2 separate regions of the Homo sapiens genome follow, and region 1 is linked to region 2. The links come from fine-mapping of genetic effects on gene expression. A gene starts in region 2. The other region holds a variant in brackets. All regions are shown on one strand. Distances are from middle to middle.

Region 1 (4,381 bases), 54 kb before region 2:
CACCCATCTTGCATCTTATTTCTCTCCTGGCTCAAATTCCACAGCAAATCATTACAATTATTCACCTGCTACACCCTCAACCCTCTTGTGTTATGCTCATACTTGCTGGGGGGAAGCCTCTACCCCTACTAAGTCTTCCACACCTGCAACCATACAGGTGAATCCAGCACAGCAAGTCTGGCTGCTCTCGTCAATTCAAGATCATGAGCCTCCACAGGCCCCATTGTTGCCTGGCAATCCTGCTCCATTTCCGTAATCCATCCTCTCTTATTCCCCTAGACTTCTATTTCTACCTTTTTTTCCTGTCACCAAACATCCAACATCCGCCCACCACCACCACCTCACACTGGGCTGAGACCTCATTCCTTCTTTTACTGAGAAACCTGAAGCAAGGCTGGGCATGGGGGCTCGCACCTGTAATCCCAGCACTTTGGGAGGCCGAGGTGGGTGGGTCACCTGAGGTCAGGAGTTTGAGACCAGCCTGGCCAACATGGTGAAACCCCATTTCTACTAAAAATACAAAATTTAGCCAAGTGTAGTGGTGGGCACCTGTAGTCCGAGCTACTCAGGAGGCTGAGGTAGCAGAATTGCTTGAACCCTGGAGGCAGAGGTTGCAGTTAGCCAAGATGGTGCCACTGCACTCCAGCCTAAGCGACAGAGTGAGACTCTGTCTCAAAAAAAAAAAAAAAAAAGAAAAGAAAAGAAAAAGAAACTAGAAGCAGTAAGGACAGAACACTCACTGGCTGCCGCCGCCACTCCTGGGACCAGCCAGCACCTGAGCATGTGTGCTGCCTTCCCTCCCACTCACCCAGCCAACAGCCTGACTCTCAGTAAACATCTCCACTGTGCACTAGTTCCCAAGCCTCCCGCAGTCTCACTTTGCTCCAGCAGTTCCCCCCTCCTCCTACTTCTTCTACTGAATCATTCCCACCACTATACAATGTGTTATTTTTCCCGTCTTAACCACTTTCACCTCCAATTACTCTTCCAGAGAGCTGTTTTTGCCCACTGGCTCCAATTCCTCTCCTGTCATTCTCTCTGGAGCCTATTCCAGTCTGGCCACCTGCACATGGCTTAAACCATGGCTAATTTGGCTGGGCGCAGTGGCTCGTGCCTCAAGTGAAAGAGAGATAGAGAGGGAGATAGAGAGAGAGGAAGGAAGGTAGAAAAGAGAGAGGAAGGAAGGAAGGAAGGAGGGAGGGAGAGAGAGAGAGAGAGAGCAACCATGGCTCATTCACAGTTGTCATCTTTCTTGACCACATCAACACTGGTTCCTCCCTCCTCCTGGAAACATTGTCTTCATTCAACCCAGGACACCACCCTCTCCTGCTTTTCCTCCTTCCTCACTGGCTGCTACTTCTCAGTCTCCTTCTCTGTTTCCTCCTCCCCTGCCCTGTAGATATTGGCGCACCCCGAGGCTCCCACCTTGGATCTCTCCTCTCACTACATTCTCTTCTGTAATTCAGGGCTTTGCCTCGAAGAGTTGTCGCTATGCCAGTGGCTTTTGTCTCACATTTATGTCTCCAGTCTCTTTTCTGAACTGCAGACTAACCTATCCAAATCCCTGCTCCCCGTCCCCACTTAGCATGTTCCAAACTCAACTCTTGGTTTCACCCTTGCACGCACTCCCCCTCCACCTCTACTGTCCATTTCCATCCTGCACTTTCTGCCTCTCCCATTCCATAACAGCAACTCTATCTTCCAGTGGCTCAGGCCAAAAACCTGAGAGTCATCCTCGACTCCTCTCACTCTTTCACATCCCCT[A/G]TCTAATCTGCCGGCAAATCTTGTTGGCTCCACATTCAGAATATTTCCAAAATCTGAGCACGTCTCTCACCTCCACTGCGCCCATCCCAGTCCAGGCTACCATTGTCTCCTGCCCGGACCCTGGCCGAGCTCTCCGCATCTACTTCTCCACTTGTTCACCCCTCCTGCTCCCCCACCTAGTCTCCATATGAGGATCAAAGAGATCTCATTAAAGCCTGTAATCCCAGCACTTTGGGAGTCCGAGGCAGGAGAATCACTTGAATTCAGGAGTTTGAGACTAGCCTGGGCAACATAGTGAGACCCTTGTTTCTATCAAAAAATTTTAAGAATTAGCCTGGTGTGGTGGCATGCACCTGTAGTCCCAGCTACTCTTGAATATTGCTTGAGCCCAGGAATTGGAGGCTACAGTGAGCTATGATTGTGCCACCGTGACAGAGTGAGGCTCTATCTCTCTCTTAAAAAAAAAAAGTCATTTTAATTCACTCCATGGCTCACTCCCCATGCCCTTTGCCCTGCCCTGTGCAGCCCACTGGTCTGCTTGCTTCCCCAACTCTCCGGGCAAGCTCGAAGCCCAGGGCCTCTCCTCCACTTAAAGTGCTCTTTCCCCAACAGCTGCATGGTTCACTCCCTCAAGTCCTTGCTCAGATGTCATTCTCTCAGTGAGGAATTCCCTAATCACCCCTTTACAATTCTAACCTCACCCTCATCCCTCCACTTTGTCTCCCCAGTAGAATCCCACAAGGGAGGGATTTTTATTTATCTTGTTCACTGGTGCATTTGTCTAGCATAAAGCAGTTGCCCACCAAATATTCAAATGCATCAATGAATGGATGAATGAGTCTACTTTTCTCGAATGGAAGTGAAGGGTTTCCAGGTAGAGGTGAGGTCTGAAGGCAAAATGAATGATCTTTTGAGAGAACAACCACCTTGCAGATAAGTTCAAGTAGCTACCGGACACCTCCCATTTTCACCTGCCCTTCCCACTGTTATCCATGCCTGAGGAATGTGATGCCAGGGACGGCAGGCTCTGCATTGGTGTCTCACCAAAATGTTCAGGCTCACGGAGTTGGCTCAGGTCCCTGGGCAGGTCCTGGTCTCCCTAGTTCAAATGCCTGGAAGACAGAGACCTTTCTAAGCCAGGCATAGAAATAACAAACTCCACATATTTCCAGCTATTTGTGGGGGCAAAAAAATTAAAACAATTGAACTCATGGAGATAGAGAGTAGAAGGATGGTTACCAGAGGCTTAGAAGGATATGAGGGTGGTGGGGAGTGGGGATGCTTAATATGTACAAAAAACAGAATGAATAAGATCTAGTATTTACTAGCACAACAGGGTGACTATAGTCAAAAATAATTTAATTGTACACCTTAAAACAACTGAAAGAGTATAATTGGATTGTTTGTAACCCAAAGGATAAATGCTCGAAAGGATGGATACCTCATTTATCCTGATGTGCTTATATCTCATTGCATGCCTGTATCAAAACATCTCAGGTACTCCATAAATATATACACCTACTATGTACCCACAGAAGTTAAAAAAAAAAGAGGGGGGTGTTTCTTGAGTCACTGCACATGCCAGGCACTGCATTCCCTAGGAGCTATGGCCCTTACCATGGCTGGATGGTGACTGCATCAGAGATTGCTGAATGCAGAGATGATTGTCATTGAGCCCCGTCTGCATGGGCGTTCCGTGAACACAGCGGTTTTGACTTCCAACCTGAACATTTCCACACTGGGGTCTGACCCACATTTGTGAAATTTGTTCATTTATATACAACAAAAACTTCCCAAGGTAGAACTGGAAAAATGCACATTTGGATGTGCATTTTACAACTCTTGTTTCAGGGATCCAGTGGTACAAAATAAGAACTCTCCCAGGAAACGAGAACCAGTCTGTCATCCCGGCCTTGGGTTTGAGGCAGCTGTTCTCTTGCAGGACAGGGCTGTGTGCCGTCTCGTGGGCTGGCCCTCCTGTCTTGGGTCTGAAGTGGCCTAGCCTGGCCGAGGCACTCGGTGCCCATCCCACAACTCCCCATCGGGCTTCTGTGTTTTGCAAAATGCAAGGGAGTCTTTGCATCTGACCTGGATGCCCTCTGTTTCCCAGGGATCCTCCCAGGATGTCTGCCTCACCAGACGACCTGAGTACAGGGGGAAGGTTACAGAACATGACAGTGGATGAATGCTTCCAGTCTCGGAACACCGTCCTCCAGGGGCAGCCCTTTGGGGGTGTCCCCACCGTGCTGTGCCTCAACATCGCCCTGTGGGTGGTGAGTCCTGGGCACTGCAGGAGGCAGACAGTAAAGCCTCAGACAGGGTCGAACTTTCACAGGTGATGCAGTGGGGGACCCAGTTGTCCAAATGGACAACAACAACATTGATACAAACTGCCTGAATGTCAGTCCTGCCTAGGGTGGCCCCGGTAGGTGGGCCTCAAAGAGGCTGGAGGAACAGGCAGAATTCCTGGGATTCTTTTCTGTGCATCATTGTCCAGAGGTTCACCTGGCCTCCTTCCTCTTTCTCATTGCTGAGGTCTTCAAGGCACATTCTGGTCCCATAGATCTGAACATGCCTCCAGCTCCATTCAATGAACTCTGAGCATCCACTCTGTGCC
Region 2 (4,381 bases):
ACACAACCTATGGGAGCCAGAGGACAAAGGCAATGACACAGGCTGGGACCAGCTCTCTGAACGCAGGGTAGGGGAAGAGGCTGATTCTGATGTCCCAGACCAATCCAGCCCAGAGGGAAAGGAGCTGTACCCTGCTTGGGGGAACTGGAAGGGAGTAAGACTAGACCTGGGGCAGAAAGTCATTTTCTCCATTCTCCACCAGGGAGGTGCTCTGCTGGATCCCAGAGGTCACAGCAGCTCTGCCTCCCTCTCACCTTCCTGATGTGGTCCAGGAACTCAGGCGAGGAGAGACAGTCCTCTGGGCTGGAGAACTGGCGGCAGTTGTACTGGAAGAGGGGCAGCAGGTCAGGCTCCAGGGCAAACAGCCTGTGGGAGTGAGGCCCAGGTGTTAGCCCTGGGGTGTGAGCTCCTGCAAGCCCCAGCAAGCCTGGCTGTCCTGCAGTCAGCGGGCGGGGGTGCCAAGCCAGGTCTCAGCTGCAAACCACAGCTGACTCTCCCACCTGGCACTGCTCCCCCGCCAGCTTCGGTAGTGCCCTCCTCCTCATGCCTTCTACTGGCTCTGGGCAGCATCCTAGAAAGGGCAAATGTGTCCCAGGGCCTCTGGTAAGCAGGGGTCCCTCGGTGAATAGCTGAGGGGTGTGATTTGGGACAGGAAGAGGTCCCCAAACAGGAAACCTGGAGTTACGTTGTGTGGAGAGGAAAGCCCTTTCTCTCTCTCTCTCTCTCTCTCTCTCTCTCTCTCTCTCTCTCTCTCTCTCTCTCTCTCTTCTCTCTCTCTCTCTCTCTCTCTCTCTCTCTCTCTCTCTCTCTCTCTCTCTCTCTCCCTCTCCCTCTCCCCCCCCCCCCCCCCCCCCCCCCCCCCCTGCGCTGAGTACTTTCCGTGTGGTTAACTTTTAACTGTATTCCTCACTGTCCTAAGCAGTGGGTACAACTGTTATCCCAGTTTTATAGAGGAGAAAACAGAAGCCCGGGGAGGCTAGAACTCGCCTAAGGTCACACAGCTTGGATGTAGTGCAGCCACAGCGGGTGCCTGAGAAAAAAGTGAGCTGGGGGGAGTCCGGAGGCAGAAGCAGAGGCCCTCCTCGGCATTTGGGAGGTCTCACCGGGTAACTGAATGTTTTCCCCTTTTGTCTTGGGGGTGGTTTTGCGGAAGCCTGGGTAGAAGTTCTGGACTGTCCAAGGGTGCCAAGGATAGGTAACACCACGGTGAGGGAAGCAGTGCCCGGTTGGTGATAGCGGAAGGGTTACCAAAACTGCGAGCTGAGGTTGGAGACTGGCCTTCCCTTCCCACCCGGCCTGCACACCCCCCACCCCTCTCCCCTGCGGTGAGGCTCCCGCATCTGTCACCCCTTCCCCGGCTGCTCTCTGGCTCTTTCCTCGGAAAGGTTTGTCTTGTTGGTTGTCAGGGATCCACACACCTGGAGCCAGACCGCTCACACGCGGGCGCAGGAGCTCGCCCCACACATCTCCCTTCCCCGGCTCTCGGGGCACCCCAGTACCCTGATACCGGCAGCGGGGTGCACCCCTGCAGTCGCTACCTAAGGAAGACGCAGGAGGCACAAGGCGGGGTGGAGGCGCCGCGCAGGGACGGAGGTCCACCCGCCCAGATGTGGGGAGATCCGCGGGAGGGGATCCCGCCCGGCCCGGTGAGCCCCGCTGGGAGAGTGGTGTGCGGCGCTGGTTGGCAACAGGCGCCCACGGTCGAGAGAGAGGCAGAGGGGCTGTGCCACCCGTCGCCGCGCCCCGCTCCTCTGGCGCACATCTGGCAGGCGCCCCAGCGCCCCGGCAGCGGCCAGTTTTCCCTCCTTCGGGGCCGGTCCTGCCGCGTGACCCCTTTCCCGCCGAGGCAGCCTCCACCCGCATCCCCGGGCGCTCGTGTAGCCCTCACCTGGCAAACAGGACGGTGCCGTGCTCCAGCGGGCTGCGGCTCACTGCCCGCCAGCTCTGCCGGATCAGCTCGGGCTCCGGGCGCTCCATGCTGTCCCGGGGACGCGGAGCGCGGGGCTGGGACCCTCAGGGCTCGGGTGCCGTCACCGCACGTGCCGCGCCATCTCCTCCGCGACGCGGTCCCCTCCGCCCCTCGTACGCCCCCCGTGCCTCCGCCCGGCGGGGGCCGCAGCCGCTCCTTCCCTGGCGCGGGAGAGAAAAGGCGCGCGGCCAGTCGTAGGTGGAGACACCCCAGCTGTGCTTCCGGGGACCCCGCTTGGCCGCTGCGCCCTGCGCCCCGCAGCCGCCAGAGCCGCCCCACCCCGCGACGCCTGGGCTGGGCGCTTTAAAGCCGCCACGGCCCCCGCCCCCTCCAGGCCAGCAAGGCGCGCGCTCCCTCCGCCAGCCGCTATGGTGGCCTGGGAAAGGCCCGGCCTGCAGAACGTAACTGACATCGCGGAGGCTCTCTGGGCCTCAGTTTCTCCTCCCGAGCCCCGAGGGCACTGTGTTGAATTTGGTCGCCTCAGGTAGGCGCTGCATGCGCCCCCTCTCCACAGGCCCCTCAACTCACGCATTGCCAGAGGCATTTGAGTTTGCCACCCACCTGGCCTGCAGGTCAGGCCTGGGGAGGCGGCCTAGGGGCCTAGTTCTCGGTCTGACTAGGGCACCAGCACACGTTGGGGGCCACCAGGGCTTTCAGCCGTAGGGACAGGGCCAAGACCACAGCCATTCCCAGCCAGGCCTGGGTTTTTTTGAGACTCCATCTTTAGAAAGCCGTGAGATCCAGTTCTAATCCCAGCTCTGCTTGGCCAGGGTGGAATCTTGAGGGAGTTCAGCTCTAACATTCTACCGTTCCATGATTTAATTTTAATTTTAATTTTAATTTTTCACCTCTTCCCTCCCTGGGCCTTCCCCACTTCCATGATTTTTCATCTTTTTGTTTGTTTGTTTGAGACGGAGTCTCACTCTGTCGCCCAGGCTGGAGTGCAATAGCGTGATCTCGGCTCACTGCAAGCTCCGCCTCCCGGGTTCACGCCATTCTCCTGCCTCAGCCTCCCGAGTAGCTGGGACTACAGGCGCCCGCCACCACGCCAGGCTGATTTTTTGTATTTTGAGTAGAGACGGGGTTTCACCGTGTTAGACAGGATGGTCTCGATCTCCTGACCTCATGATCCGCCCACCTCGGCCTCCCAAAGTGCTGGGGATTACAGGCGTGAACCACTGCGCCCGGCCTTTTTTTTTTTTTTTTAACGGAAGTACTGTTTAATTTTTTCAATAGAAGTTCAGATAATAGAATCCATGCTCCCCACTCAGGGTGTGCAATTGGCCACCTGCCAATTACAACTAAACTTTTCTCTTTCAAGCAGAAAGTTCCTCAAGCCCCAGCCCAGTGCTGGTGGCCCAGGTTTGGGAGAGCAAGCCCGTTTTCACCTTTATTTCTCTCTCATTATTCCCTCAGGGGTCTCCGAGCCTATCTCCTCTGTCTGTCCACGCCTCTCTGGCCCTGTTTCCTCAGTTGTGCAGCAAAGGGGTTGGGTGGTGAGGTCTCTGGGACCTTTTAGTCCACCTCCTTTAGTTCCATGGGTAGAAGGTGGGTGTTCTTGAGCCCCTGGTTATGAACAGCTGGGGCTCCATGCCCAGCCCTGTGCTAGACATGGAGTGGCGAGTCCTGGTCTTTAAAATTTCTCCTTCTGGCCCTGAATCAGAACTGAGTGCCTCAGCAGAACTTTTCTTTCCTACTCCTAGCCATGCCCCAGGAAATCATCTAGCTGTTCTCCCTCTTCCAAGGACTCAGGAGTTTGTGGTAACCCCTATTCTATTTCCCATTTCCTCACAAATCTCTGGGCTGGAGCAGGAGAGCAAGGCTATAAGGCAGCCTGGAAAAGCTGGTGTCCTAGGGTCCAAGAGGTCTCCAAGCAAGAACACAAAGTGATTGGGGCTGAAGGAACAAGACGTGACTAAACTTCCAGCTTGGGGTCCCGTGGACCTGCAGCCAGGTGCAGCAGGTCACAGGGCAAGGACACGTGTCATTGGTGACCTTCACTATTCAGTGCCCAGATGCTCAGTGCTCTGTGCAGGCCACCTGGCTGGTCTCAGGTACCCCACTCTACCCAGCTCACGCTTCTTGCCAGCAATCTATACTTAGGACCCATCTTGCTTCCTCTCTCCTCTGGCCAGGGTCTGGAGTCTGATGAGGTAGTGGGAGTTAACGGCCCTAGCTAGTAAGTAGAGTCAGTACTCAAACCATGGCTTCACTCTTTGTCTTCCTAGAGCCAGGAGATATGTGCTAAGATAAGCCAAGGTAAGTGCACTCTATCCCTGCTCCCTTCAAGAAAGGCCTGAGAATCTGGATGGGCCTAAGCGATGAGAGTGATGTATTCCCATCAGTAGACCAAGGGTCCAAGCCCACATTTGAGGGGCTCAGTAAAAGTCACAGGAGTCTCCTCCCTGTGGG

Direction of the effects. Alleles are on the strand shown, and positions count from the first base shown. SD is a standard deviation of normalised expression in the study named.
In carriers of allele G in region 1, the expression in cerebellar hemisphere of the gene that starts at base 2,246 in region 2 tends to be lower than with A alone (small effect, 0.31 SD a copy in GTEx).

Evidence for each region. PIP is the estimated chance that this variant, and not a neighbour inherited with it, causes the effect.
Region 1: its variant is the best candidate, but not a certain one, in a credible set for the expression of NGB in cerebellar hemisphere (GTEx, PIP 0.86).

What each region holds. Positions count from the first base shown.
Region 1 is chr14:77,214,927-77,219,307 of GRCh38, forward strand. TMEM63C (transmembrane protein 63C) reads left to right here. Exons shown (of 24, transcript NM_020431.4): 3 at 3,875-4,037. The coding sequence starts at 3,888. Among named protein-coding and RNA genes, the nearest start is that of TMEM63C, 35 kb to the left of the region's middle. The variant A/G (reference allele first, on the strand shown) is at 1,765.
Region 2 is chr14:77,268,961-77,273,341 of GRCh38, forward strand. NGB (neuroglobin) reads right to left here and starts at 2,246. Exons shown (of 4, transcript NM_021257.4): 1 at 1,889-2,246; 2 at 255-366. The coding sequence starts at 1,977.